2 separate regions of the Homo sapiens genome follow, and region 1 is linked to region 2. Evidence: fine-mapped expression QTL. A gene starts in region 2. The other region holds a variant in brackets. All regions are shown on one strand. Distances are between the middles of the regions. Region 1 has its middle 61 kb from the start of LINC00605. Region 2 holds the start of ASPG (asparaginase).

Region 1 (15,472 bases), 840 kb before region 2:
GGGGAGTCATGCGCTACAAAGCAGAAATTCTCATCAGATGGGTTTTATTTAACTCTGTATATCGTGACTTACTTTCCAACCTGACTCTGGCATAACAACGAAAAAAAATCAAAATATTTTACCCCAAAATACATTTCCTTGCCATACTTTGAAATTGTCCTGCAAAGTCTCTTGTGGGAAAAATCCAGATTCTATTGGAATCCCCTTTCCCCTTTGTTTTCCTTCCTTTCTTTTCAGATCCAGGAGATAATCAACTAGAGCCAGGTACACTTTTAGGTCTGATAAGAAACATTTTACAACCTGCTCTCTCTGAAGTCTGCTATCTGAGAACTTCCTCTGCACAGTAAAACTTGGTCTCCACAATCCTTCATCTTAACCTGAACATTTCCTTTCCGTTAATCCCAGGTCTTCAGATAAACTCAACCAATTGTAAACCAGAAAATGTTTAAACTTACCTACAGCCTGGAAGCTCCCGCTTTGAGAGTTGTCCCAGTTTTCTGAACCAAACCGTTGTATTTCTTTCTTTCTTTTTTTTTTTTTTCGTTTTAAGGAGTGGAGAGTTTAATAGGCAAGAAGGGGCAAGAAGGATGGGAGAAGGAAGAAGCTCCCCTGTACAGAAACAGAGGGATGGGGGGCTCCAAAGCCAAGAGAGGGAACCTCCAAACCCATATATTTCATATATATATATATATATTTTTTTTTTTTTTTTGAGATGGGGTCTCACAATGTCACCCAGGCTGGAGTGCAATGGCATGATCTCGGCTCACTGTAACCTCCGCCTCCTGGGTTCAAGCAATTCTCCTGCCTCAGCCTCCCGAGTAGCTGAAATTACAGGCACCCACCACCACGCCCAGCTAATTTTTTGTATTTTTAGTAGAGATGGTTTCACTATGTTGGTCAGGCTGATCTTGAACTCCTGACCTTGTGATCCACCCGCCTCAGCCTCCCAAAGTGCTGGGATTACAGGCATGAGCCACTGTGCCAGTCCCTCTTAAATATATTTGATTGATGTCTAATGTCTCCCTAAAAATATATAAAACCAAGCTATATGTGCCCCGACCACCTTGTGCACATGTTCTCAGGACCTCCTGAGGGCTATGCTATGGGCCATGGTCACTCATATTTGGCTTAGAATAAACCCTGTAACATATTTCACAGAATTTGACTCTTTTCATTGACATGGATAAGGATCACATTGTACAATTTGTGGTAACTTTTAGGAAGTCTAGACAGTCAGCTAGCCTGGAAACTACAGGGAAGGAAAGAAAAAGCCTTTGAACAGTGAACCCTAGGCACAGCTGCTGGCATCATTGTTCTCTGGGCCTGATAAGTTTGCAGGTCTCACATTCCTCAGGCTGCTCTGAGCCACTTCTCTTTCTTATTTCCTCCTTTGGATCAAGATCTTGCTCTCTGAAAGTATTGATGATCAATATTTTATTTTATTTTATTTATTTTTTGGAAACAAATGCTCGGTGCCTCAAAGAAGAACCAGCACTGAGACTAAGGATCTCTCAGCAAGGCAAATTTACTTCGGCAGAAGGGTATGTGCATCTCACATGTGAAGTAATGGCAAAAGCACACAGAACAAAGGAAAGCAGGGGTTTTTATTATGTCTAACACAGCTTCTGCTTCTGTGTCTTTCCCCTATTGGCTAGGGTTGGACCACACAGTCTAAACTAGTCCCAGTTGGCTAAACATTTAAACTTTCTTAGATAAGGTAGGCACGTAAGGGAGGTGAGAAGGGAGAGAAGGGGGGTCATTTACGGAGGGACTAGGAGGGTAACCTATTCCCTAATAAGGAAAGAAATGTGGACTGGGGTTGTAGCAAGTTCAGGCATGCCTAGGCATATTCAGACAAGCTGCGGTGCAGCACAGGCAAGGGGGTATTTGGAATTGTAGGATAGAGAATGAGGAAACTGGATAAGCTGTTTGAAGAGGAAACCTAACTGCATCTAACATTTTATTTATTTATTGAGACAGAGTCTCACTCTGTTGCCCAGGCTTGAGTGCAGTGGTGTGATCTTTGCTCACTGCAACCTGTTTCCAGGGTGCAAGCAATTCTAATGTCTCAGCCTCCGGAGCAGCTAGGACTACAGGCATATGCCACCATGCCTGACTAATTTTTGTATTTTTGGTAGAGATAGGGTTTCAACATGTTGCCTAGGCTGGCCTTGAACTAACTCCTGGCCTCAAGTGATCCACCCTCCTTGGCCTCCCAACATGCTGGGATTATAGGCGTGAGCCCCTGCACCTAGCTGATCAACATTTTAAGTGTAAATTTGCCCAGCATCACTGGGAAGGCTCATTCCCATGGGGGGGGGGGGGGTAAGAGGAGAGGTGCTCTGGCTCATGAACTCGGTGAGGTCTCCAGGCAGAAGATATTGGCAGCACAACGGGACAGAGCAGCGGGATCCCAGGCCGCCTGCTTGGAGAGAAGCTGTGGTGTCGCGGATCATTCCTAAGTGTTCTAGCTATCATGATTTTCGTTTTTATTCTTGACTTTAGACATCTAGAAATACAAAGCCTAATCAAGTGAAGAATAAAAAATATGATGCAAATAAAATCCCAATCTGGAAAGCATTCCTATTCCTAAAGGTAATCAATCATGTAAATCACGTGAGGGGTCTGTTTTTCTACCATCTTGCAGCCATTTTGCCTTTTTTTTTTTTTTTTTTTTTTGAGACAGAGCATCACTCTGTTGCTCAGGCTGGAGTGCACTGGCGTGATCTCAGCTCACTGCAACCTCTGCCTCCTGGGCTCTAGTGATACTCCTGCCTCAGCCTCCCAAGTTGCTGGGATTACAGATGTGTACCACCATACTTGGCAAATTTTTTTTATTTTTTATTTTTTTTTATTTTTAGTAGAGATGGTGTTTCGCCATTTTGGCCAGGCTGGTCTCGAACACCTGACCTCAAGGGATCCACCAGCCTTGGCCTCCCAAAGTGCTGGGATTACAGGTGTGAGCCACCGCACCCAGCCCATTTAACTTTTTGAGTGATTTCTAATTAATTTCCCACTTCTCGTCCTGGTCTGAAGAATAAGGTAACTGGCTGCAGATCAGCTTCAGCTGGGGATCTCCAGGTGGAAGGTACCCATGCATGCAGGACTGCCTTTTTATTTATTTTTTTTAATTTTACGTTAAGTTCTGGGATACACATGCAGAACGTGCAGGTTTGTCGCATAGTATACATGTGCCGTGGTGGTTTGCTGCACCTATCAACCCAGCATCTAGGTTTTAAGCCCCACATGTATTAGGTATTTGTCCTAGTGCTCTCCCTCCCCTTGCCCTTTACCCCCTAACAGGGCCACGGTGTGTGTTTTTCCCCTCCCTGTGTCCTTGTGTTCTTATTGTTCAGCTCCCACTTATGAGTGAGAACATGCGGTGTTTGGTTTTCTGTTCCTGTGTTAGTTTGCTGAGAATGATGCCTTCCAGCTTCATCCATGTCCCTGCAAAGGACATGACCTCATTCTTTTTTATGGCTGCGAGGACTGCCTTTTTAAAATGAGAAATGTGAATGCATGAGTCAGTGCCTTTGAGTTTAGCTGCACAAGGAATTGGTAAACAATCCCCAACATGGGCCCTTCTGGTGAGCTGGAGGGAGTCCCTTATTTGATAGAAAGAGTCCTTGATTTGATGTCTTTTCCAAGAATCAAAACCTCCTAGTTGCAGGCCATGACCTCTGATGTCTTCGTCTCCTGGGTGCTGACTCTTCAAAGAATCTTTAATTTAGAGTTTTTAGTGAGAAGCTGTATAAGGCCTTGCAATCATGAAGAATGTCACCTTTAGGGTGAGCTGGTTCACTGGGCTCCTTCCTCCAGGCACATGGGGCTTCCTGCAGTTATTTCAAAGGGAGAAAGCTGAGGTTTTCCAAACAGGTAGAAGGTAATTTAAGCAATACCAATGGAAGAGCCTTAGGCAAGACAAGGTTCAAAGTTTCTGTAAACTTTGCCATTTGTTCTTGTATCCATTGTGGCAGGAAAATAAGGTCTGGAGGCAGGGAACATAAGGCCAATTCACACTTCAGCTATAACAGGAAATATCCTCTCCATATGGCATCACTTTACGTCATCCTCTTCATTTACACAGGGTGTACCCCAAGTAGAGGGTATTTAAACTCACATAAACTCACAAAAACTCTGTAACAGGGCCTTTGAGCCCCTATGCTCAGGCCCACTACCACACTGTGGAGTGTACTTTCATTTTCAATAAAACCCTTCATTCGGCTGGGTGCAGTGGCTCACGCCTGTAATCCTAGCACTTTGGGAGACGAGGCAGGTGGATCACCTAAGGTCAGGAGTTCGAGACCAGCCTGGTCACCATGGGGAAACCCCATCTCTACTAAAAATACAAAAATTAGCTGGGCGTGGTGGCGGATGCCTGTAGTCCCAGCTACTCGGGAGGCTGCGCACGACAATCGCTTGAACCCGGGCGGCAGAGGTTGGCAGTGAGCCGAGTTTGCACCACTGCACTCCAGCCTGGGCGACAGAGCAAGACTCCGTCCCAAGAAAAACAAAGTAAGACAAAGCCCTTCATTCTTTCCTTGCTTTGTTTGTGCGTTTTGTCCACTTCTTTGTTCAAGACACCGAGGACCTGGACACCCTCCACTCTTAACACCGTCTATGTGTTCCGCCAGGCCAGAGGCTGAGGGTGGCATGCATAGTGCAGTGGTGAAAAATCGCCGTATGTCACAAATAGACCGAATTGTCTGACAGGTGAAATGGGTTCCTCGGTTGCTGTGCAACTTGGAGGACTCCCCAAGAAGGAATAATTTTCTCTAGCGAAAATTTACCTACTGTTCAGGCCATGGCTCTACGGCATGGCAATGCTTCAACCCAATGAGAAAACATGGAAATCATGACCAGGATGTACTTGTATCCTTGAGATAAAGGCAGTTGGACAAAATTCAGTTGCCATTTTATCTCAAAAGGTCCTGATGGGAAATGTCTCAGGGAAATGTCCTTGAGGAACGTGGAGTGCTTTTCAGAATTGTGTTGGGACAAGCAGGATGGGGGGAGTACACTTTTTTTTTTTTCTGAGATGGCGTTTCGCTCTTGTTGCCCAGGCAACAAGTCTTGTTTTGTTTTGTTTTGTTTTTGAGACAGAGTCTTGCTCTGTCACCCAGGCTGCAGTGCAATGGCGCAATCTTGGCTCACTGCAACCTCTCCCTCCCGGGTCCAAGCTATTCTCCTGCCCTCAGCCTCCCAAGTAGCTGGGATTACAGGCGCCTGCCACCATGCCTGGCTAATTTTGTATTTTTTTAGTAGAGATGGGGTTTCACCATGTTGGTCAATGTGGTCTCGAACTCCTGACTTCAAGTGATCCACCCACCTCGGCCTCCCAAAGTGCTGGGATTACAGGCATGAGCCGCTGAGTTCAGCCGAGAGTACACCTTTTGAGCCATCATGGGTGATGGTTTCCAGGAATATTATTTTTCCATGAAATTGTTTTTCCATGAAATCGTTTTATCTGACTCCAGTGAGTTGACTCATGAACATATTGTAAAAAGGGTAACCAAAGTCGCGAGAGAAGAATTGGTCTATCACTGAACTGTACCATAAACCCATTTCAGGAGAGGACGTGACATCCCCCTCTTACTTTTCCAAAGCTTTAACTCTTTTTCAGGGCCTTTCTCTGTGCTTTCTTCAGCGAGGTTTTTTTGTTTTGTTTTGTTTTTGAGATGGAGTCTCACTCTGTCTTCCAGCCTGGAGTGCAGTCGCGCAATCTCAGCTCACTGCAACCTCTGCCTCCTGGGTTCAAGCGATTCTCCTGCCTCAGCCTCCCGGGTAGCTGGAATTACAGGTATGCACCACCACGCCTGGCTAATTTTTGTATTTTTAGTAGAGACAGGGTTTCACCATGTTGGCCAGGCTGGTCTTGGACTCCTGGCCTCAAGTGATCTGCCCGCCTTGGCCTCCCAAAGTGCAGGAATTACAGGCATGAGCCACCGTGCTTGGCCTCCTTCAGCAAAGTTTTAATTGGAGCATATGCTTGCAGGGATAGCTCGAGATGTATAGTTTTTGGGTGAGGAAAGACACTTCAGCAACAGTTTTGGTCACAGCCTCTGTGAAACAGTTGCTCTTACCATCAAAAGTGTCTGGCTTCCGATGTCTAGGAATTTTGATAAGGGCCAGTGATTTCAGTTTCTGAATGACCTCCAAGAGATCAAAGGCCTGTTGGCCATTTTTAAGGGATTGTCTGGAAGAAGTCAGGAATCTACGTTATTTCCGGAGCATCCCCAAATCACGTGCTGTTGTAAATGCGCCTCTGCTCTCTGTGTAAACTTCAGCAACCTTGCTTTCTGCGCATCGACAGGCTCTGGCTAAGGCAATCAGTTTTGCTGGGTGGGCCAACTTTGCCTCTGGGAGAGGGTTGTCTTTTAGGACTTCAGTCACAGAGACAGCTGCATCACCTTGCAGTGTTTTCCAGAATTGCCATTTAATTAGGGGCCATCAGTAAACCAAATTACATCAGCATCCTCTGTAGGCATCTCCTGTGAGTTCTGCCTAGGAGTGAGAATTTGCTGGGTCACGGCAATACAGCCAGGGAGCAGCCCATCAGAAGGCAATGGCAGCACAGTAGCAGGGCTAAGATCCCTACAGTGAGAGAGTAATGTGAGGTGAAGGCAAGGGAAGAACTCCACATAAAGAAGCCTGTGGCAAGAGTGATGCTGCAAATGATGAGTGGCTGAAATTATTCTCCCAATGTATGTGGGTGCTTGTGACCGTAAGTGGTGAGGCAGGGTTTGCCATAAGTTGCTCACATCATCCATTGGTTCCGAATTCAAAATATTTTCTTTCTTTTTTTTATTTTTTTGAGACAGAATTTTGCTCTATTGCCTGGGCTGGAGTGCAGTGGCACAATCTCAGCTCACTGCAACCTCCACTTCCTGGGTTCAAGCGATTCTCCTGCCTCAGCCTCCCGAGTATCTGGGATTACAAGCACGCACCACCACACCTGGCTAATTTTTGTATTTTTAGTAGAGATGGGGTTTCGCCATGTTGACCAGGCTGGTCTTGAGCTTCTGACCTCAGGTGATCCATCTGCCTTGGCCTCCCAAAGTGCTGGGATTACAGGCGTGAGCCTCCATGCCCGGCCTCAGGCATTTCTTTGCAGCAATGCAAAAATAGTCTCATGCAGTCCCTATTTGAAATTCTGAAACTTGGGCCTTACAGTCATGGGTGGGTTAGGCACTCCCACCATTTCAGTGGTTTCGTTCCTCTGAGGAAGGGGACAGTTATATATGATGGGGTTGAGAACAGAGAAGACAGCTCTGGTGTCAGTGAGAGCAGGAGTCTCTTCACTCAGCAGTGGATCCACTCCTCCTAATGGGAGAGGAAGGAGAAATAGAAACGCCCCCTTCGGCTCCCCAGAGCAGCTGTTTCTCTTGGGTGGTTTTTCTCTCCTGTTGCCATTTAAGTTGTTTGCAATCTTTTTAAAGGTGACTTTGTTTCTTGCAAGAGAAGCAGACCCCTCTTTGGTCATGTGGGCTTATCTGCATCTTCTTAAGAGGTTGGGTCTGGCAAGTCAGCTGCTGGAGCTGCCTTCGTTGAAAGAAGCGGGTTGACCAGAAGATCTGCAAGAGTGCTGTGGGATTTGCTGAGCCTCTTCCTCTGGCGGAGGAGGGATAGGAGAGATGGTAACCAGAGCATGGAAGGCCTGACAAAAGTGGATGTAGAGGTGTGGGAGGAGGCAACAGGAGAGCAGTGGAAGGAGAAAGAGAAGACATTTTCAAGGTTTTCTTTAGTTGTGAAATTGTTTCTGACAATTTTTTGCTTATCTCCTGGACGGAAGCCATTTTTTCCATACCTCTCTTAGAAGCTTCTACCTACCGTTAAAATAGGACTGCTGTTCAATTTGTCTGGTTCTAAAACCTGCTAATTGTATGCACAAACATATTAACTTAGAAATTTCCAAAGACCCCGATTTTGGCCATTGAAATTTGGGGTCATCCTGAGTCATGTGGGTGCATCTGGCTGGGTGTCCACAGCATGGCGCTCTACAGGGGTGACCCACAAACCCGGCTGGTGCTTCCAAGGGGGATTGCCCCTTAAAGGAAAGCTCAGTTTTTGACAACCATTTTCCCATACTTTTAGAAATTCCTTCTCAAAAGTGATCAAGGCTGGAACAGAGCTTCTGGTTGAAGTGTGCTACTTGCAAGCGTCACTCCCTAAGGTCCCAGTGACACCGTGATTGACTGTCTTATGTGTCTCAGAATCCCTGGTCCCCTTGCAGTGGTAGAGTGCTAAAGGCGCCAGGTGACCAGCCCTTATGTGCACCTTCCAGCTGGGGTCTGTCCTGCAGGGAGGCCCTCTCAGACTGCTACACATCATGGACAAACATCCCAACACCCCCATAAAATCTCTAGTCCCCTGCAGCACCCAGCTGGGTTTGGAGGGAGCAAGTGTCTCTTAACTTCCAGGTGAGAGAACTCACCCTCATGCACCCTTTGGTTTGAAACTAGCAGGAATTGGTCACAATTGAAAAGACGAGTCCAAATTACCAGCAA[T/C]AGGAAACAGCTACAATTTTAAAATCATGCTATGTAACTTTAGGTCAAAAAAAGTGAAATCACCAGTGCTAGTGAAACCACCTTTGCAAAAAAGATAACAATGAGGAAATTATGATGGTGAAAGAGATCTGACCTAACCAGCTCCATCTTACCTTTCACCTCCAAGCTGCCCTTGTTCATTCCTGAGTGTAGGCCAAAGGAGGAAGGGAGGGATTTATAGCTTAATGTTGAAGCAAAGATAACAGCCTCTCCCCAAAACAAACCCTCTCCTTGCCTGGGGATCAGACAGCCTTTGTAGAACTAACAAATGAGCCACAGATGAGAAATTTTGGCTCAGGAGTCACGCGGCCAGAGGCCACAAGATTCCTCACCTCCCCAGTTGCCCCCATAGGTAACGTTACTATTATGAAACCTAAGGTTGGTGTTTGAGGTGTTTTTCAGACCCTGCATTCTGATGGGTCAGCTGAGGCTACACTGACTGGTGAACTGGCTCATCTCGTCTTATGATCCCCACTCAAGAACCAACTCAGCCCAAGAGGACAGCTTCGACTCCCGGCGGTTTCATCCCCGACCCAAGCAGTCAGCACTCCCACTTCCCATCCTCCTGCCCACCAAACTATCTTTAAAAAAATCCTAAACTTTGAATTTTCAGGGAGGCTGATTTGAGTAGCAATAAAACTTTAGTTTCCTGTTTAGCCGATGACAACATGTATTAAACTGTTTTTATTTATTTATTTATTTATTTATTTATGAGATAGAGTTTCACTCTTGTTGCCCAGGCTGGAGTGCAATGGCGTGATCTCGGCTCATGACAACCTCTGTCTCCTGGGTTCAAGTGATTTTCCTGCCTCAGCCTCCCGAGTAGCTGGGATTACAAGCATGCGCCACCATGCCTGGCTAATTTTGTATTTTTAGTAGAGATGGGGTTTCTCCATGTTGGTCAGGCTGGTCTCAAACTCCCGACCTCAGGTGATCTGCCCCCCTCAGCCTCCCAAAGTGCTGGGATTACAGGCATGAGCCACTGTGCCCGGCCTTAAACTCTTTCTTTCTCTGTTGCAATTCCCTGTCTTGATAAATTGGCTTCCTCTGAACAGTGGGCAAGAGGAACCCATTGGGCAGTTACACTAGACTCCAACACTGTAACCCAAAACGCTGCCATGAGGCTGAGGAGAAGACAGACATTCTCTGCAGAGCTTTTGCCTAAATCTCCTGTCCAGAGACAGAGACAGAAGCCCTCACTCTTGCAGGAAAGAAAGGATTTGGAAAACAGCCCAAATAAAGTTTCAACTTCTTCACAACAGCCAAAATTTGGAAGCAACCTACATGTCCATCAACAGAGGTACTTACACAATGGAGTACTATTCAGCCATAAAAAAGAATGAGATCCTGTCATTTTCAAAAACATGGATGGACTAGAAGTCATTATGATAAATGAAATAACCCAGTCTCAGAAAGACAAACATCGCGTGTTCTCATTTATTTGTGGGATCTAAAAGTCAAAACAATTGAACTCGTGGAGACAGAGAGTAGAAGGATGATTACCAGAGGCTAAGAAGGGTAGTGGGAGGGTGAAGGGGAGGTGGGTTCATGGATACAAAACAAATAGTTAGAAAGAATGAATAAGACCTAGTATTTGATAGCACAAAAGGGGGACTATAGTCAATAATAATTTAATTTTACATTTTAAAATAACAAAAAGAGTATAATTGAATTGTTTGTAACATAAAGTATAAATGCTTGTGGGACTGGATACCCCATTTTCCATGATAAGATTATTACATGTTGCATGTCTGTGTCAAAACATCTTATGTTCTGCATAAATATATACACCTATATGTCCACAAAAAATAAAAATTAAAAATTAGAAAAAGATCTAGACCTCAACCAAAAGGAAGGGAGGTCTGAATTCAGGACTCAACCTTTGCACGCAAGGAAACCTCTGGAGTCAGAGGAACACAGAGTGTTTATACTGGTTCGGATTGCTGAGTGTGAGAGGGAATGCCAGTTGGCTGCAAGGGAGGAATAGAGCTGAATCCTCCAGACAACACCAGAAATGCCAACCAAAATTAAGAAACTGAGGCCCCAGGCACGGTGGCTCATGCCTGTAATCCCAGCACTTTGGGAGGCCAAGGCAGGAGGATCACCTGAGGTCAGGAGTTCAAGACCAGCCTGGCCAACATGGTGAAATCCCGTCTCTACTAAAAATACAAAAATTAGCCAGGCATGGTGGCGGGCACCTATAATCCCAGCTACTCGGGCGGCTGAGGCAAGAGAATCACCTGAACCTGGGGGGCGGAGGTTGCAGTGAGGCAAGATCGCGCCACTGCACTCCAGCCTGGGCGACAGAATGAAACTTTGTAAAAAAAAAAAAAGAAAGAAAGAGAGAGAGAAAGAGGGAAAGAGAGAGAGAGAGAGAAAGAGAGAAAGAGAGAAAGAAAGAAAGAAAAGAAAGAAAGAAAGAAAGAAAGAAAGAAAGAAAGAAAGAAAGAAAGAAAGAAAGAAAAGAAAGAAAGAAAGAAAAGGTATCCCATGGTAATCCCATGGTGAGATCCTATGGTGAGATCATAGCTCACTGCAGCCTGGAACTCCTGGGCTCAAGTGATCCTCCCACCTCTGCCTCTAGTCCTAGTCTTTGAGTAGCTAGGACTGTAGGTGCATGCCACTATGCCTGGCTTTTTTTTTTTTTTAATAGAGATAGGGTCTCACTCTGTTACACAGGCTAGAGGGCAGTGGTATGATCACAGCTAACTGCAGCCTGGAACTCCTGGGCTCAAGCCCTCCTCCCAATCCTTGGCCTCACAAAGCACCGGGATTACGTGTGCGAGCCGCCAAACTCAGCCACAAGTCAGTATTTAAAGGAAAAATGGGGCAGTTCCTAAGTTGTTTACCAAAAATTTTTATTGTTTCATTAAAATAACCTATTGATTTATTAGACATCGTTCTTTGTATCACAAATTCCAGGAGCATGAAGATAATGGGTGAGGCTCACATTGTGCAACTTGTGGTAATATTTTAGGTAATTTATTAGCTAGCCTGGAAACTACAGGGAAGGAAAGAAAAAAACAAAGCCCTTAAACAGTTACCCCTGGGCATGGCTGCGGGGGTGTGACTGAGGTCCCATGCTCCTGTCCCTCTGGACCTGATACATTTTGCAGACCCCCCCCCATTCCTCAGGCTGTTCTGAGCCACTTTTCTTTATCAGTTGACAAGGATGCACACCCATGTACTCTTTGTGTCTGGCTTATTCACTCACAATTAAACTTATTCACTCACTTGCTGGAAGTTGCCAGGTCATAGGGTTTGGGTAGGTTCAGCTTTAGAACACACTGCCAAACAGTTTCTCCAGGTGTTTGTACAAAGTGCACTCCCGGCCGGGTGCGGTGGCTCACGCCTGTAATCCCAGCACTTTGGGAGGCAGAGGCGGGTGGATCACGAGGTCAGGAGATCAAGACCATCCTGGCTAACATGGTGAAACCCTGTGTCTACTAAAAATACAAAAAAATTAGCCGGGCGTGGTGGCGGGCACCTGTAGTCCCAGCTACTCGGGAGGCTGAGGCAGGAGAATCACCAGAACCCAGGAGGCGGACGGTGCAGTGAGCCAAGATCGTGCGCCACTGCACTCCCGCCTGGCGACAGAACGAGACTCTGTCTCAAAAAAAAAAAAAAGAAAAAAAGTGCACTCCCACCAGCAAAGTGAGATGCCTCTGGGTGCTGGGTATCCTGGTGAACACTTGGTATTCTCAGTTGCTCAGCTGGTGGCGGGTGCGTGATTGTATCACTGCTTTGTAGATTTGAGGCTGCTGGGGATAGCATTCGACATCCAAGACCTGCCTAAGGAGAGGAATCTAATAAGTCTCAGAAAGTTTCAAACTCTTTATTTTCACTCAGTTTTCAAAGACATATGTTAATTAACTGTCCATTACACTGCAGACTGACTGAGCTGGGCTCCCTCTGTTTCTATATGCAATTAAGTTACTCAGGAAACACTTTCTTTTTTAAAAGCTTTGATAAATAGGTTATAAGTATATTTAAAACTACATGGAAATTAAAATGTTATTGCTGTATGCAATGCTATAAATGAGATAAAACATGCAAATCTGATGGAATTCTGTGCCAAATAGCTAGTCTTTCTTTCTTTCTTTTTTTTTGTTTTTTTTCCCGAGACAGAATCTTGCTCTGTGGCCCCGGCTGGAGTGCAGTGGCGCAATCTCAGGTGACTGCAACCTCCACCTCCTGGGTTCAAGCAATTATCCTGCCTCAGCCTCCCAAGTAGCTGGGACTACAGGTGCGTGCCACCACACCCCGCTAATTTTTTGTACTTTTTTTTTTTTTTTGAAACAGAGTCTTGCTCTGTTGCCCAGGCTGGAGTGCAGTGGTGCGATCTCGGCTCACTGCAAGCTCTGCCTCCCGGGTTCACGCCATTCTCTTGCCTCAGCCTCCCGAGTAGCTGGGACTACAGGTGCCTGCCACCACGCCTGGCTAATTTTTTGTATTTTTAGTAGAGACGGGGTTTCACCGTGTTAGCCAGGATGGTCTCGATCTCCTGACCTCGTGATCCACCCGCCTCTGCCTCCCAAAGTGCTGGGATTACAGGCGTGAGTCACCGTGCCTGGCCATTTTTTTGTATTCTTAGTAGAGACAGGGTTTCAGCATATTGGCCAGGCTGGTCTCAAGCTCCTGACCTCGTGATCAGCCTGCCTCGACCTCCCAAAGTGCTGGGATTACAGGCATGAGCCACTGTGCCCGGCCAATATCTTTCAAATAGCAAAAGTAACTCTCAGAACACAGTCTATGCAAATCACAGCACAAAGTGCTCCAGCAGGAGGGACCTGTTCTGTCCACCTATGTCAGCATGATCTGCAGTGATCAGGCAGCCTTGCCATGGGGCAGCAGAAGTGAGAAACCCTGCCATGGGGCAGCAGAGGTGAGACACCATTCCAGGAAATAGATCGAAACTCCAGTGTGTACTAATGGATACTACCCACTGGCTGAAGGCTTGAAACTACCTTTGCAAAATTCTGACAGAAAGGGAAATCTGACATAGCTAACTCCATCTTGCTGTTCTGTGCAGGAAAAGTGCGAGGGGAGAAGAAAAGACACACACACAATACCTTTAAGTGTAAACAACCTTCATCTTACGTGGCAATGCAGATATAATAAGCAAATTATATAATAAGCAAATAATATAATAAGCAAATTCATATAATAAGCAAATTGCAGTGGGAAAGGGAGAAGGCAAAATATATATCCATATGTGTGTGTATATATATATTTTTTTTTTTTTTCGGAGATGGAGTCTTACTCTGTCACCTAGGCTGTAGTGCAGTGGTGTGATCTCAGCTCACTGCAACCTCAATCTCCCGAGTTCAAGCTATTCTCCTGCCTCAGCCTCCTGAATAACTGGGACTACAGGCGTGCGCCACCACACCCAGCTAATTTTTGTATTTTTAGTAGAGACAGGGTTTCCCCATGTTAGCCAGGCTGGTCTCGAACTCCTGACCTCAGGCAATCCGCCTCCCAAAGTGCTGGGGTTACAGGCGTGAGCCACTGTGCCCAGCCAAGATAGATATATATATTTACACTCACCAGGCTATGGAGGATTCACTGCCAGACCGGGAAGCAACAGCCTGGGCTCCAGAGTTGGCCACCCGTCTGTGCACAGACAAGGAGAGGTCTCATGAAGCTTCGATGTGGTCTGGGGTCCTAGCTCTTTTTGTAACGAGCTGTTTGGCGTGAGGCCCAGTCACGAGGGGCCTTTGTGACTGGGCTCAAGGAACACAAAAGGGCCAACTTGCTTTTGCAATTTTCTATTGTTTTTCAATAACTAATGTATAGGAATAGATTGAATTAGAGATTTCTCCAAAACAGCGCTGGATAAACGCCTCAAGGGGCTCACACAACCCGTTTGGGGACTTGGTGGCCATTGTTTGTGTCCATGTTCAATTGAGTTCAAATTTAATGTTTAACTTTTCCTCCACACTTGCCTCTAACCTCCAAGTTGTCCTTGTTCATTTCTGGGCAAAAGCCAAGCTAACTTCGGGAGGAATTTAGTTTATAGTTTAACACTGAAGCAAGGATGATAATAGCCCTTCCAAAACTATCTCCTCTTCATTCAGGAACCAAAACTGTCTTTGTAAAACTAACGAAAGACCCCAAGATTAGAATTATGGCTCAGGAGTCAGGTAGCCAGAGATCACAAGACTTGTAACCTCCCCAGTTGCTCCTATAGATAACATAATTGAAAAACTAAGATTCGTGTCTGATGTATTTTTCAGACCCTGTATTCTGATGGATCAGTTAGAGCCACCTGGATCAGTAGCCCATACCAAGAAGCTGGCTCATCTGGTCTTGTGATCCTACCCAAGAACTGACTCACTGCAAGAAGACAGCTTCAGTCGCATGATTTTTATCTCTGATCCAACCAATTGTTATCCCCATTCCCTAGCCCCATGCCCACCAAACTATCCTTGAAAAACCCTAGGCTCCCAGCTTTCAGAGAGGCTGATTTGCATAATAAGCTCTGGTATACCACATGGCTAGCCTTGCACTGATTAAACTCTTTCTCTACTGCACTACTACTGTCTTCATAAATTGGCTGTCCTGTGCAGCTGGCAAAATTCCATTGGGCAATTACAGGCTCAGCTCATTCTCCATTATAATTTTGTTTAAAAATGGGCCAGGCGAGTGACTCATGTCTGTAATCCCAGCACTGTGGGAGGCCAGGATGGGAGGATCACCTGAGCCCAGGAGTTCAAGACCAGCCTGGGCAAATAGTGGAATCTCATCTCCACAAAAAATTTTGTTAGAAGTTAGCCAAGTGTGGTGGCATACAACAGCTGTCCCAGTTACTCAGGAGGGTAAGGTGGGAGGATCACGTGAGCCCAGAAGGTCAAGGCTGCAGTGAGCCATGACTGCATAAATGCACTCCAGCCTGAGTAACAGAGTGAGATCCTGCCTCAAAAAAA
Region 2 (15,472 bases):
TTTTTGTTTCTCTTGGGTAAATACCGAGGAGTTGTGGGATTACTGGGTCATTGAGCAGGTGGTCGTTTAATCTTGTAAGAAACTACCAAATTTTCTAAAGCGGTTGTAATACTTACATTCCGTGCTAGTTGGAGCTTTTCTCTCTCAGCCCTCAATCCATCCTTCTTTCGTCTGGCGTCCTGGAGCTAGACTGTAAACATTTCTTCTTTCCCAGCTGATGCAATGTTAGGCGTTGCCGGCAGAGGGCACTGGAGGGACACTGCAGGAGGAGCGGAACTACTCTTCCTGTTTCTGGTGCTGCTTGCCAGCAGGTGGCCTCCCAGCACCTCTCAGCAATAAGCAGTTTCCTGCCTCCAGGCCCAGCCTTTGCACCTCTGGCCATTCCGTGGCCTCAGCCACTCTCTCTCCGAAGAGGTCTGAGTCTCATTCTGGGTGTGGGAGCAGGGCTGTTCCAAGTTTCTTCCTCCCATGGGTGTTGTCCTTGATCCTAGAGGCTGCTGCACATCTTCTCTTCCTATGTTCTTTAGACATGTTTCTGCCCTTCTCAGTAGTTAATTCCCTTTAACTGAACATTTATTTTTATTTTTTTAGCGACAGGGTCTTGCTCTGTCGCCCAGGCTGGAGTCCAGTGGTGTGATTCACTTCCTGGGTTCAAGCGATCCTCCTGCCTCAGCCCCCTGAGTAGCTGGGACCACAGGTGTGCACCACCACACCCAGCTAGTTTTTAATTTTTGTAGAGAAAAATTTTCTCTGCCTTGGCCTCCTGGTGCTAAGTTTACAGGCATGAGCCACCACACCTGGTCCCCTAATTTTTTGTGTTAAAATTTGCCCATATCTTCCTTTGTGAAGTATCTGCTTAAATCTTGTGCCCCGTTTGGGGGGAGTTGTTTGTATTTTTATTGAGTTGTAGGAGTTCTTTTGTGAGAATGCAAATCCTTTGTCTGGTATATGTCTTGTGAACATTTTCTTCTAGTCTATCCTTGCCTGCTCACTTTTTTTATTGTGGTAGAAAACATAAAAATGTACCATCTTAACTATTTTTAAGTGCACCGTTCAGTCGTGCACCGTTAAGTATATTCACATTGTTGTGAAAGGGATCCTGGAACTTTTTCATCTTGCACATCTGAAACTCTGCACCTATGAAGCAACTTCTCAGTCCCTCCTCTTCTCAGCCCTGGCAACCATCATTCCACTTCTGTTTCTATATGTTTGGCTCCTCATAGAGTCAGTCTGTTTTGTGCTGCTGTAACAGAATACCTGAGACTGGGTAATTTATAAACGACAGATTTATTTCTCACAGTTCTGGAGGCTGGGAAGTCCAAGATCAAGGAGCTGGCATCTGGCGTCTGGTGAGGATCTGGGCTTCTGCTTGCAAGATGGCACCTTGAAGTCTGTGTTCTCATGTGGCAGACGGGTAAAAAAGACCAAACTCCCTCAGTTAGGTCGTTTTATAGTGGCATTAACTCATTCACGAGGGCACACCCTCATGACCTAAACATCTCCTAAAAGGCCCCACTTCCAAACACAGTTGCATTGGGGATTAAGTTTCCAACAAGTGAGTTTTGGGGGATACATTCAGACCTCAGCATCTAGTACCCCATATAAGTGGGATCCTATTGATAGAAGGTCTCTGATTTACGAAGTTTGAACTAAATGATTTTTTGACTTATGATGGGTTTATTAGAACATAATCCCATTGCAAACATCTGTATTTGTCTTTCTGTGATTGGCTTATTTCACTTAGCATACCCTATGTTGTAGCCTGTGGCAGGATTTCCTTCCTTTTCTTTTTTTTTTTTTTTCCTGAGACAGAGTCTTGCTCTGTCGCCCAGGCTGGAGTGCAGTGGTGCGATCGCTGCTCACTGCAAGCTCTGCCTCCCGGGTTCACGACATTCTCCTGCCTCAGCCTCCTGAGTAGCTAGGACTACAGGCGTCCGTCACCACGCCCGGCTAATTTTTTTGTATTTTTAGTAGAGATGGGGTTTCACTTTGTTAGCCAGGATGGTCTCGATCTCCTGACCTCGTGATCCGCCTGCCTCGGCCTCCCAAAGTGCTGGTATTACAGGCGTGAGCCACCACGCCTGGCCGATTTCCTTCCTTTTCTATGGAGATACCACTTTGCTTATCCACTCATCTGTGGATGCACACAGGTTGCTTCCACCTCTTGGCTTTTGTGAGCAGTACTGTTATGAACGTGGGTGTGAAAACATCTTTTTGAGACCTTCCTTTCCAATCTTTGGTCTCTGTTCTCAAATGGAATTGCTGGACGCTATGGTAGTTCTAATTTTAATTTATTGAGAAGCCTCTACTGTTTCCCATAGTGGCTGTATCATTTTATAACCCCACCAGCAGTGCACCAGAATTCCAATGTCTCCACATCCTTGCAAACACTTATTTTCTGTTTTTTTTTTTTTTTTGATAGTAGCCATCCCAAAGGGTGAGTGGGGACACCACGTGGCTTTGCTTTGCATGTCCCTGATAATTAGTGATGTTGAGCATTTCTCGTATGCTTCTTGGCCAAGTGTATATCATCTTTGGAGAAATGTCTGTTCAAGTCCTTTGCCCTTATTTATTTATGAGACGGGCTCGGTCTATTACCAGGCTGGAGTGCAGTGGTGCGATCATAGCTCATAGAGTGACCCTTCAGTGCTTTCCCACACTCCCCTGGGGTCCAACCTTCTGCCGAAGATGCCCCAGCTCTCTGCAGTTCCCTGCCCAGGCCCCAAGACTCCTTTCCCTGTCGGAAAGTTTCTTAGGCTTCCTCTCTCTGGGGTCCCCACACACCTCTGTTCCCCTCCAGCACACTGGCCCAGGCCGGGCCAGCCTGCTTCAACACAGTGTCAGGAACTCCTGTGGTGTCCACAAGCCCAGTGCCAGCGCTTGCCTGCCGTGGGACGCACTGTGTGCCTCAGGCCCCTCACTCGCCAAATAGGACAGTTATCCTCTGCCTCGGTGTGGTCACAGGGGTGAAATGTGCCTGGATTTGCAGGGTGGCTGCAACAGCGCCTGGCCCATAGGCAGTACCATGAAGACTCACAGTGTAGGGCAACAGACGACGCCTGAGCGGCTGAAGAAGGTGGGCTCCCAGGGCCTCCCTGCCCAGGCCTGCTGCCACGGCCAGAACCCAGGGGGGCACCGTGTACCTCGCCAGTGGCCTCAGCACTGCGCCTTGCCTCCAGGAGTCTTGGCTTGTTTGTGTGGAGCTGGGGACTGGGAGAGCAGAGCTTGTGACCTGAGGCCCCCCAGCCTCAGGGTGGAGGTGACCACCCTGGACCAAGGCCTGCCCCAGTTAGTGGCTGAGGACAGACAGGAGTACGTGTGGCATTCCTGCGGCCCCTTGCTCGGCACCCAGGCACTTCCTCCTGCCCCTCTGCCTCTGGAAGGCCAGCCATGGCATGGCCACGGGGGCCTGCCACCTGGCACCTCCCCAACACAATACATAAATGAGTGGGTGTGGCTGTTCCAAGAAAACTGTGTTTACACACACAGGTGCGCCAGGCCTGGCCGTCGAGCCCTGGTTTGCCGGCCTTTGTTCGAGACCAGTGGTTCCCAAATGTGCACCTGTATCAGCATCACCCAGAGCGGGGTCAGAGTCTGGACTCCTGGGCCCCACGCGGAGTTGTTGTCAGGGGCCTGGGCTTTGCATTTCCACAGGTTCCAGGTGCTGCTGCTGGAGCGGAGGCCACGCTCTGAGCACCCTGCTCTAGAAGAAGAGATGCAGAAAAGACAGGCAGGGCTGCAGAAAAGGTAGGCAGGGCTGTAGGGTGGTCCGGACCACCGGGCACTGTCAAATGGCAGATGTCCCTCCGCTCTGCTCTGGGTGGGGCTGGGGCCGGAGTGGATTTTATAAACACTCTGGGAGGGTCCCACCCAGAACTCTCCTGCGCTGTGTGGAAGGAGGGCCACTGGGGAGGGTGTAGATGGGAAGTGAGAGAGAAGAGGGGACGAGGAGACCCCTGGGTGGCCAAGGAAACACTTTTCTGAACAATCAAAAATAAAGGAGGGGCAGGCAGAACGTGGGGACTTGGCTGGGGCTGCCTAGGTTCCCTGGACTCACCTCCTGGCACTACACTGCCTGGGGAGCCAGGGGGCCAGGAGCCAGGGAGCGACTGGCACACCCCACACCTTCCTAACCCAGCCCCTGGTGGGGAGCCCTTCCTTCAGCAGCAGGCAGCACAGCGATGGCCAAGTGTCCCTCCAGGGGGACAGACGTTTGCCCCTCCACGCCACTCACCCGGGGTGAGGCCGCAGCACCCTCCACCTTGCTCCACCGTGGCCAGCTTCTGGCCTCCCCTCACCAAGCCCCGGGACTTCACGTGAAGATCACTTACTGGCCTTCTCCCCTCGCGGTCCTGGGTTCTCTCCTCCTCCTGGCCTCTGAGGCCAGAATGCTGAGGCTCAGACTAGGGCCTTTGTCTCTGCTGACACCTCGCTGCTGTCACGACTTTGTGGTCCCTGTGCCACTGACTGCAGGACGCGCAGCTGAGTCTCCTTGGACCTGCCCAGGTGGCCCCCAAGCAGGATGTGTCCAACACACCTTGCTTCCCTCTGCCTGGCCCCAGGCCCCACTCTGGCCCCTGCTTTCTCAGTAAGGACATCCCCACTCCGTGGCTGCTCTGGCCAAAGACAGGAGAGTCACCCTTTCTCTTCGGCGCGTACCCCTCAAGCTCCAGCTTGTGCTCCCAGCACTCCCACCTTGCACTTCCCCATCCCCAGCTCCTCCCCACCCTGCCCAAAGCCCTCCTGAACCCATTCTTGTCTCAGTCTCCGCACATAGCAGCCAGAGATTAAAACAAACCAGCCCAACCCTCGGTGGGGCTGGTGTTCACCTTTGGGGTTAAATTGAAAGTCCTTGCGTGGCACCACAGTCACTCAGCGGGCATCCCCTCCCTCTGAGTGCTCTCGCCCCACTGACCTGGGCACTGTGGGGCCATGCTCACTCCTGCCTCGGGCCTCAGCACCTGTCCCTTCCTGGCAGCCTGTCCCGCCTGGCATGCTGGCTTTGCTCCAATGCCAACCCTTCGGAGAGGCCTTCCCTGGCCACCCTGTTGTAAACAGCACTGCCTGTCTCCGTGTTCCCTGAGTGTTCCTCCAGGCACTGTCACTGCCAGACGCTGGTATTTTTGTCTACTATGGCCCCCACCCTGGCTGGTACACTCAGAAGGACGGGCTGCGTCCCCTGTGCCTAGAGAGGCATCTGGCACAGAGCCAGCCTTCAACATATATTGCATGAAAGATTCCGTCCAAGGACGCTGTAGATGTAGGTGGACGCAGACAAAAGCAAAGCAGGACAGTGGATTCGTCCAAAGACCGGCAGTGTCTTCAGGTGAAGCTGCAGCGTCGAGTCCTGGTGCTTGCAAGGTTTCAGCAGCAGAAACCTGATGGGGCTCCTTGCACCTGGGAGAAAAGCCACTCCAGTGAGGATTATTGCCAGTGAAGGCTGCCCTGGCCCCAGACAAGTTTTCCTAGAATTTATGGTAGCAGGCGGGTTGTTAAAGGATGATTCCCGAAAGGGCCAGACATGGTGCTCACAGGGATGCAGGGTGAGCATGCGTCGAAGAGCTTCCCTAGCCCAGGCAGCTGTGAGGACCAGCTCAGAAGAGAAGTCCTGAAACAGACACTTACAGATGAGGAATATTGACATGATTGTGCAAATGGACCTGAAACTGGATTTTCAGGGGGCTGTGATGGGCTGGATTGTCTCCCTTAGATTCTAATGTTCAAGTCCCCCACACCCCAGTGTCTTAGAATGCAACTGTATTTGGAGGTAGACTTTAAAGAGATGGTTGAATTAAAATGAGGCCCCAAATTCAATCTGACTGGTATGTCTATAAAAAGAGAAAGTCTGGACATCTGGAGATACATCAGGGATGCGTGACTGCTCAGAGGAAAGACCCTGTGAGGCACAGCAAGAAGGCACCATCTGCTTGCCCAGGAGACACCAACCTGTGACACCCTGACCTTAGACTTCCACCCCCAAGAACTGTGAGAGGTAGACCTCCTTGCACTGTAAATCACTCGTTCTGTTACTGCAGTCCCAGAAAACTAACACAGACCTTTGCTGGGCAGAATGCCTTTGCTTCTCTGCAGACAAGATTACTTTTGCACTATTGCACTGTTGTTATCAAAATAATTATATGGGGCTGGGCATGGCGGCTCACACCTGTAATCCCAACACTTAGGGAGGCTGAGGTGGGTGGAGTACCTGAGGTCAGGAGTTCAAGACCAGCCTGGCCAACATGGTGAAACCCCGTCTCTACTAAAAATACAAAAAAAAAAAAAGAAAAAAAAATTAGCCTGGTGTGGTGTGCACCTGCAATCCCAGCTATTCGGGGAGGGGGCTGAGACAAGACAATTGCTTGAACCTGGGAGGCACAGGTTGCAGTGAGCCAAGATCTTGCTACTGCCCTCCAGGCAACAGAATAATAATAATTTTTATTATGGAATCAGTGTCAAATGCTGGTGCCTTCTGGGGGCAACACACAGTTTCCCACCAAAGTGCATCAGTGCCCCAGGCAGTCAAGGTGCCAGGAGACGAGGAGGCCGCGGATCTTCTGTCCACCTGGGAGCAAGCCTGCAGCTTGGGACCCTCCTGGGACCCTGCACCCGCCAGTGCCCTGCCCTCCTGGGCTCTCATGGGAGTGAAGGAGGGTGGGCTCTGTAGGAGTTAAAGAAAGAGGAAAGAAACATGAAAAGCGGCTCAACAAAGGCAGGTTTATTTTGGAGAATAAACCTGAAAGGGACTTCTGGCCGATTTTGGTCAGGAGCCATCTCTCCTACAGACTAAGGATCTTTAAGGGTTTAGGAAGTGGGGAGCTTATCGCAGGCTCGGAATGTTTCTATGTGAGGGAAAGTTTATTGCGGGCTTGGAATGTCTCTGGTCGGAGGGGAGGTTATCTCGAGGTTGGCATGTTTCTGATTGGAGATGTTATTTGTGGTTTACGGTCGTGCTGACATTAGCTATTGGGCTGATGTGTTTTGGGCTGGATTTAGGCAGCTTTTTAATCAAAGGGAACCTAAAATGGCGGTGTTTGTCCAAGAAGGCCATACTCCTGCTCTGTCCCGCTCCAGCCCTTGGGGGCCCCTCGGGCTCTTCTCTTGGATGGTGTGTGAATGGGCACATGTGGAGGGGCTGGTCCAGCTCTGCCTGCCTCTGGCCATCCAAAGGAGGGACAGCAGGGCCTGGGCAGCAATGCCGGCCTTGGAGCCCCGGGGCTGTGGAGGCTGCTTGACAGGACACGGAGCCCCCTCTGTGCTCAGGTCGTGGAGGGCCTCGGGCACTACGGTCTGCCAGGCACCACATGTCACAGCTACTCAAACACCCAGGGCCGCCACGGAGGGCCAATGGCCGCAGGATGGCTCAGGACCCGCCCCACCCCTGTCGCTGCCTTTCTGGCTGCCCCCTAGTCCCTGGACAGGCGCTCCCCAGCCCCAAGCAGGCCCCAGCCAATCTCCTGCCCAGGCAGGAGCTCCCCCTGCCGCCCTCACAGACCTCACCTCTTCCTACACGTTTCCAAGGCCGCGCCCCGCCCCGCACCCCGCCAGGCCCCGCCCCGCACCCCGCCAGGCCCCGCCCCGCACCCCGCCAGGCCCCGCCCCGCACCCCGCCAGGCCCCGCCCCCACCCCGCCAGGCCCCGCCTCTCTCTCCGACCCTGGACAGTCCCCGGGACCCACCCCGCCCCCAGGTCCTGCCCCCGCCCGCCTCCGCGGGGCCTCCCACCCTCCCGGGCAGACTCCACTCCCGCCCCCTCCCCGTGGGTGCCCCCGCCGGCCCCGCCCTCCCAGGCTGCCCCCGGCGCCCCGGGCCTCCTCCGCGCAGTCCCTGAGTCCCGCAGGCCCTGCGTCCCCGCTGCACACCCCCGTCCACTCCCGTGGTCCCCGGTCCGGCATGGCGCGCGCGGTGGGGCCCGAGCGGAGGCTGCTGGCCGTCTACACCGGCGGCACCATTGGCATGCGGAGTGAGCTCGGCGGTGAGTCCGAGACCCTGGGCGGGGTAGGCCTCTGGACCTGGCCGCGACCGGGAGCCTCGGACCCTCCTGCACCCACGGGGGTCGTTGGGGAGTCAAATCCGCGCCTGGATGGGGGGTGCGGGCTGAGGTCGCTCTCCTCCGGTTCCGGCCACCGGCGTCCCCACGCATGGAGCCCCGACCTGGACAGAGGAGATTGCGGTGGGTTCTCGCCGTCGCGGTGCTCCCGGGAGCGCCCTGCGACCCTGGGGCCAGGCCCCCTGTGCTGCCGCTGCGCCCCTGAGGGCCAGCGTCCTGAAGTCCTGGAATATGGGGCGGGAGGGCCCCAGGGCATTGGCCTGCCGCTCCTGCTCTGGACACAGAAGGCTTAGGAGGCTGCCCTGGAGAAGGCTTAGGAGGCTGCGAGGACCCCTCAACTGCGACACCCAGGAGGGTGTCCCCGTCCCCTGGGGTCCTGGTCAGGCAGCAGTGGTTGGCACGATACTGGGGCTACCTGGCATCTGCGGGGACGCACGTGTTCACACCCGAGGTGGCCTCAGAGCCCTGCTTCCTCTGCCCCTGTGTGGACCTGGTTGACCAGAGACCAGCGATTGCGTCTGGACTGAGTTCTGCCTGGGTGGGGTCAGGGCCTGGGACAGGCACCGAGCTCTGTGGTACTCCAGCACAGTGCTGCCAGCCTGGGCTGGGCACAGGAAGGATGGTAGCTTGGGGAGCCTGAGGCCACCGGGATGGGGAGAGGACGGTTGCACTGGAGCCTCCAGAATGCCTGGGTGTTCCCCAGGAGGGCAGGACACTGCCTGGGGCCCCCAGATGGGCTCTGCTGTGATGTGGGGCCTCCCTTGGGGCCAGGACAGCCCCCTCGCCCCGTCTTGAACCTGTTTGCGACCCTCCATGGGCCACTGCCTGCCTTTCCCTCAGGAGCCCTTTCCACTCCTCCTCCTCCCACTCCCTGCTGCCCTGGCCCCTCCCCACACTCCTGCTTGTGTCCAGCGCAGCTCTCTCTCCTGGGACGGCTGGGACCCTCTCCGGCTCTGCCAGAGCCCAGGGCCTCCCCTGGCATGACCAGAACATTCTCTTGTCCCTTGCCCATCTGCCAACCACTTCCCCGCCCCTCCTATCCCCACCCCCTCTCACGGCCTGTTCCCTGGCAGCTGCCCCTCCTGGCCACCCCTTTCTGCTGAAGTGGCTGCTCAGAAGCCACCAGCACTCTGTCGGTGCTCTCAGATTCCACCCACCACACTGTGGCCGGTGCAGACCCCTCTGGAGGCCCACTCTGCGCCCAGCCCAGGAGACAAAGCCTAGTGGGGCTCGTCCACGAGGGACTCAGGTCCCCAAGAACGTGGCTGTCCAGGCTGCCGGGAGCCTCCTCTGCACTTCTCCTTCTGCCTGTGAATGGAACAAAGTCATTCACAGCTTGGCAAACGCCCCTGTGTGACACTCCACTGACACAGAGTGACACAATTCCTGTGCTTGGCCCTCACAAGCTAGAGAGAGAGGCTGCCATTGAAGGGATGGCATGCATTAAGGAGCTAGTCCCAGGGGCAGGATCTGCCAGGGCCCTGTAGGGGCTGTGGGCTGATAACAGGGTCTGAGCTGGGTGTGTGGATGGTGTGGAGTTTGGAGGCAGCCCAGGGAGGGCTTCTCTGAGGACACAAGGCCTGCAGGACAAAGATGGGAGAGGGCCAGGCCAGGAGCAGCCCTGCAAGGTGCAGGAAAGAGGAGTGGGGAGCCCAGCAGGGCCGGAGCCTGCCAGAGCTGCCCCCGAGTGGGGACAGGACCTGGGGACTCTGTGTGGGGCCTCGTCCGACGCCCCTGACGCTACCCCTTCAGGCTTGGAGTGTGGCCAACTGCAGTTTCGTTGAGCTCAACATGTAGTTCTTGAGTGGTCCGAGCTGCAGGGGCAGGTGGACTCTGTAACCCCACCACACACCCGTCTCGCTTGGCCCCCGCGTGCTCGCCGCAGCAGCCTGTGGGTGCACTCACACGCGTGCACCGCATTTCTGAAAGAGGCTGTGAGGTCCTGTGTCTGGGTGGGAAACAAGAGACTTGGAGGCTGGAAATTGGGTGTGGGGCGTCAGTCTTCAGACCTGAAGCAGCCTTCTGAGATCCCTTGGTGCTCTGTGCACTGGGGTCCTGGCTTCTGCTCAGCAGCCCGTCCTCGTGTGGCTGCGAGGTCACCCCCAGCTGTTGCTAGCTGACCCATGTGGGGCATCCACTTCCAGGAACCTGCAGGAATGGGCTCCCCCAACCCCTCGTGAGGTTGGAGCAGCCAGACTGTCAGGCGTCAATGATTTACTCCCTCCACACTGCTGACGTGGGCTCTGGCCTTCCCTGGGGAGGTGAGAGGGGAGTGGTGGCTTTGCCCTAGTAAAGCTGTTTGATTGTCGCTGTTGGAACGGCTTCTGCGCCTGCTGGTAAACAGTGACCTGTGGGTGGAACGCTGCACACCTGGAGCCCTGCCAGAGTTCAGGGAGGGCAGAGGTGATGCCAGTGGGGACGCCCCTTGACCCATCCCTTCTCTGAGTTCATTGAAGCTATCACAGGTCAAGGGGCATAGCGAATCCAAACACGGCTGATAACCCCAAGCCCAAGCTGGCATCAGTGGCCACGTTCTGTACACCCGAGAAACTTGAAGACTTCCTATGTCAAACTGGGAACCCCACCTGCTTGCCGGCCTGTCCCAAAGTCCCTCCTGAGCCCGGCTCCTTGCAGGCACAGCAGGGAGGGCAGAGATCTGGGGCCAGGCAGCTGAGAGAAGCTCCCTGCCCGGTGACCACACGGGTCCCAGCAGTCGAGAGTGTCAGTGGAGTGATGCCCATGGCTTCTTGGTTACTGCAGTGGCGTCTGTGCCCTTGGCCTGGACCTCCTTCCTGAATGGGTGCTACACGTTCACAAGTTTCTAAGCCTAAGCTTGACTTCGCTGGTGACAGTGGGGCCCATTGTCTTAGAGAGCAAAGCCTCCTTTCCAGGTGTTTGGCAGGGGGCTGAGGAGTTTCCAAGTCACCAGCAAACTCAGGCACCTGCCTGGATGGGCCAAGGAAGAGGTTCCAGGCAGGGCTGGAGGGTTCAGATTCTGCAGCCCTTGAAGCTTTTGGAGGGCCCTCATTGAGAAAAGTAATACAAGTTACAAAATCATAGTTAGGTGTGAAAGCCGGTGTTTGTTTATTTTTTATTTATTTTTATTTTTTTGAGATGGAGTCTCACTCTGTCGCCCAGACTGGAGTGCAGTGGCGCGATCTCAGCTCACTGCAAGCTCTGCCTCCCGGGTTCACACCATTCTCCTGCCTCAGCCTCCCGAGTAGCTGGGACTACAGGCGCCCGCCACCGTGCCCGGCTGAAAGCTGGTGTTTATTTAAAATAACAAAAGAAATTGCCCCAGCTGACTGGGCGCGGTGGCTCACACCTGTAATCCCAGCACTTTGGGAGGCTGAGGTGGGTGGATCACTTGAGATCGGGAGTTCAAGACCAGCCATGGACAACATGGTGAAACCCTGTCTCTACTAAAAATACAAAAAAAAAATTAGCCAGATGTGGTGGCAGATGCCTGTGGTCCCAGCTACTGGGGAGGCTGAGGCATGAGAATCGCTTGAACCCAGGAGGTGGAGGTTGCAGTGAGCCGAGATCTCGCCACTGCACTCCAGCCTGAGTGACAGAGTGAGACCCTGTCTCAAACAAACAAAAAAAACTGATGCCACTACATACCTGTTAGAATGGCTGCTGACGTACAACACATTGACTGCGGGGTGAGTGCTGGAGCCCCAGAGTTGGAAAGTGGTCCACTCGCAGGTTGGTAAGAAAACTTTACTGGCGACAGTATAGGTTTGAAAAAGGAACGTTTGGCCAGACATGGTGGCTCAGGCCTGTAATTCCAACACTTTGGGAGGCCAAGGCGGGTGGTTCACTTGCCTTGCTAACATGGCGAAACCCCGTCTCTACTAAAAATAAAAAATTAGCTAGGTGTGGTGGTGCATGCCTGTAATCCCGGCTACTCGGGAGGCTAAGGCAGGAGAATTGCTTGAGCCGGGTGGGTGGAGGTTGCAGTGAGTCGAGATGGCATCACTGTACTCCAGCCTGGGCAACAGAGTGAGACTCTGCCTCAAAAAAAAAAAAAAAAAAAAAAAAAAAGGAAGAAAGGAGAAGAAAAAGAAAAAAGAAAGAAATTGGCCAGGCTGGTTTTGAACTCCTGGGCTCAAATGATCTTCCTGCATCAGCCTCCCAAAATTCTGGGATTACAGGTGTGAGCCATAAAAACCACTGCAAAAGCACATATGGAGTGTTTTGCTTGAGAGAAGAGGACACCAAGAGAGTTTAGTCTTGTCTTTGGCTGATTTCGCCTGTGGTGCCCACACATGCCCCCAGCAGGGACAGCAGGGCCCATATCCACGCCTACCACTCTGCAGCATTCCTGGAAGTTTCTGGAAGCTGTTCCCCCACATGAGTCAGCAGCAGCTGGAGGTGACCTTGCACAACGTGAGCATGTCCCACAAAACCAAACCAGATATGCCCCCTCCACCTTTCCCATAAGGCACCCCAGCTTCACCCGCCGTGATGAGTGGAGAGTGACTTTTTGTTTCCTGTGGCCACTGTGCCGGGCGGCTGAACATCACAGAAGTTCGTTCTGGGTTCTGGAGGCCGAGGCCTGAGAGGGGTTTCCCCGGGCTGAGCCAAGGTGCTGCAGGGCACCGCTCCGTCCTGACGCTCTGCGGGAGGAGCCACCCCTGCCACCTCCAGTGTCTGGTGGCTGCTGCAATCCTTGGCTTGTGGCCGCATCACTCCAGTCATCCAGGCCAGCATCTCCAAGGGCCGCTCTGCCCTGTCGTCATATGGCCTTCCCCTCCCCGTGCCCTGTGGCCTTCCACCTGTGAGGAAACACGAGAGGGCGTTTAGGGCCCACCTGGATTGTCCAGGGCCACCTCCCGCCCCATGACCCCTAATATCACATCCGTAAAGACACTTCCATATGAAGTGACACCCACAGGTACCGGGGATTGGGATGTGGACATCTTTTTAATTTTTATGTATTTATTTAATTTTTTGAGACAGTCTCATTCTGTCACCCAGGCTGGAGTGCAGTGGTGCGATCTTGGCTCACTGCAACCTCCGCCTGCCAGATTCAAGTGATTCTCCCGCCTCAACCTCCCAAGTAGCTGGGATTACAGGCACCTGCCATCATGACCAGTTAATTTTTGTATTATTCGTAAAGACAGGGTTTCACCATGTTGACCAGGCTGGTCTTGAATTCCAGACCTCAAGCAATCTGACACCTCGGCCACCCAAAGTGCTGGGATTCCAGGCCTGAGGCACTGCGCCCGGCCCTGGGATGCGGACATCTAGGATGCTTTTTCAACCCACCATACATGAGACAGGGACACTTGGACACCGGTGTGGGGTGGACCCTGAGCCCCCTGGATGCCCAGGGTCTGAGGTTGGGTCCTTGGGGTTCACAAGGCTGGTGAATCCAGACCTTTGTTCCGGCAGCCCGTGTCCTGGCTGTGCTCTGGGCGCCTCGGAGGGCAGACGGGCAGACAAACATGTGCGGGCTCCGCCTCCCCCGTCTGCTGGCTGAGCCCTACTGGCGGGGTGATTTTGTCAGCGGCTGCACCTCAGCCGGCCTGCATCTTCCAGTCCTCTGGCAAACGTCCCCGGGGCTCCACAGGCCTTTGTGTAAGGCCAGAGGAGGATCACGGGTGCCATAAACCTTCACGGGGCCAAGGGCTGGTGTCCCGGGGCTGGTGACTTAACAGGCAGAGATGTGGAGACCAGGGTGAGCCCAGCAGTGGAGGGCGATGTCAGGGAGGGGTGCGGCTGGAGGGATATTAGAGGGGGCTGCTTTAACTTGCCAAGTTTGGGGTTAATTTGTGAGCCAGTGATAGGCGATGGGTACAGCTGCAGAGGGCGAGGGGGGAAAGCAGGTGACCATGGCTGGGATCTGCAGGATAGGATGGGGCATTGCTGCTGGGGGAGGGAAGGGAGGGCCGGGAGGGAGCTTTGGGACTTGCTGGAGGCCCTGGAGGGGTGGCTGAGGGGTCAGGGCTTTATACTGAGCAGCTGGCCCCAGGGAATGAGTGGTGTGGCCAGGTCTCCATTTAAGGGACAGAACTGAGATGCAGAGGCTGCAGGAAGGTGGCAGAGTTGCTGGGGGTGGGACCAGCCCGTCTGTGCACTTGCTGTGTGCTAGGCCCTCCAGGTCGGGGAGCTGGGGAAGGGGACCTGGGCTGGACCCTGAGGGAGTCACACAGTCCGTGCCCTTTGGGAGCTCGAGGGCCAGTGAGGGAGAATGTGGGAATAGCACTACAGCCTGGGCATCTGGGAGGGCTTCCTGGGGGTGGTGTCCCAATCTGGGCCTTGAGGCACCTACTGGGTGAGAAGTGGGGACGAGGCAGGACTTCCAGGCAGAGCCCACAGTATATCCACAGTGAGGCAAAGGCTGAGCCCCGTGGGCCTTGGTGGGGAGTGTGGACTAAGCATTTGGAGAAGGAGGTGGGAGCAGGGGCAGGGCCTGGGTGGAGCAGCTAGAGACCTGGGCAGAGCTCCTGGGGCCGTCCAGGTGCGAAATGAGGAATCACCACGGGCTCCAAGGCAGGAAGCCATGGCTTCCAAACGCGGGTCAGCCGCCTGCCCTCTGAGGGGTCCCAGGGGCAGCCATAGCCCTTCCTCCCAGCCTCTGACTGTCATAAGACCGGAGCCCCATCCCACCAGCTCTGGTCCTGCCCCTCAGTGAGGGAGGAGGCGGCCATGGCTGTCAGCCCCTGACCCCAGCATCCACCTGGACTCTGCCTGCAGTGCTTGTGCCCGGGACGGGCCTGGCTGCCATCCTGAGGACACTGCCCATGTTCCATGACGAGGAGCACGCCCGAGCCCGCGGCCTCTCTGAGGACACCCTGGTGCTACCGTGAGTGTGGGCTCCTCCCAGTCCCGGACAGGGCATGGCTGCTGAGGGGCACCGATCCTGAGGCTGGGCACTGCTGGCCAGGCCCACGTGAGCCATTTGCTCACCCCTGTCTCTAACATCCCCTCAGCTTACAGGGCTTTAGGACTGACCAGCAGTCGCCTTCCACCAGAGCCTGAACCTCTGAGGGTGCCCCGTGCCTGGTCCCACCTTCCCTCCCCACCCTCCTCCCACACCCCCAGCCAGGCTGCTTCGGCAAGTGTGATGAGGGCGCCCCGTCTAGGGATCCTGTATATCAGGAGCCAGCTGGCCCAGGTGGCCTTGCCCCCAGCATAGAGGTCCTTCCATTTCTCAGCTCTGGGCCCAGCTCCCTGATGTCCCCCACAGCTGGGGGTGAGCTGGGAGTTGCCCTCGTGGTGGCTGACCACCACAGCCGCCACAGGCGAGCCTCCTGCAAGCATCCTCTCCTGCCTGGGGATGGCTGGTCCCAGCCCCCCTCTTCGAGCTGGTGTGGGAAGAAGACTGCTGGGAGTGGCCCATCCTGACCTACGTCCTTGCCTCTGTGGGGAGCTCCAGGTGGAAGGGGGGCCGGGCCCCGTACCTGGGATGCTGAGA

The links.
Region 1: its variant is fine-mapped to the expression of ASPG in ovary (GTEx, PIP 0.92).

What each region holds. Positions count from the first base shown.
Region 1 is chr14:103,242,398-103,257,869 of GRCh38, forward strand. No RefSeq gene overlaps it. Among named protein-coding and RNA genes, the nearest start is that of LINC00605, 61 kb to the left of the region's middle. RefSeq lists an enhancer at 1,162-2,361. The variant T/C (reference allele first, on the strand shown) is at 8,508.
Region 2 is chr14:104,077,882-104,093,353 of GRCh38, forward strand. ASPG (asparaginase) reads left to right here and starts at 7,819. Exons shown (of 16, transcript NM_001080464.3): 1 at 7,819-7,971; 2 at 14,752-14,860. The coding sequence starts at 7,890. It overlaps LOC124903408, which reads left to right and starts at 2,972. Exons shown (of 2, transcript XM_047432050.1): 1 at 2,972-3,747; 2 at 4,979-5,814. The coding sequence starts at 2,972. The coding sequence ends at 5,054.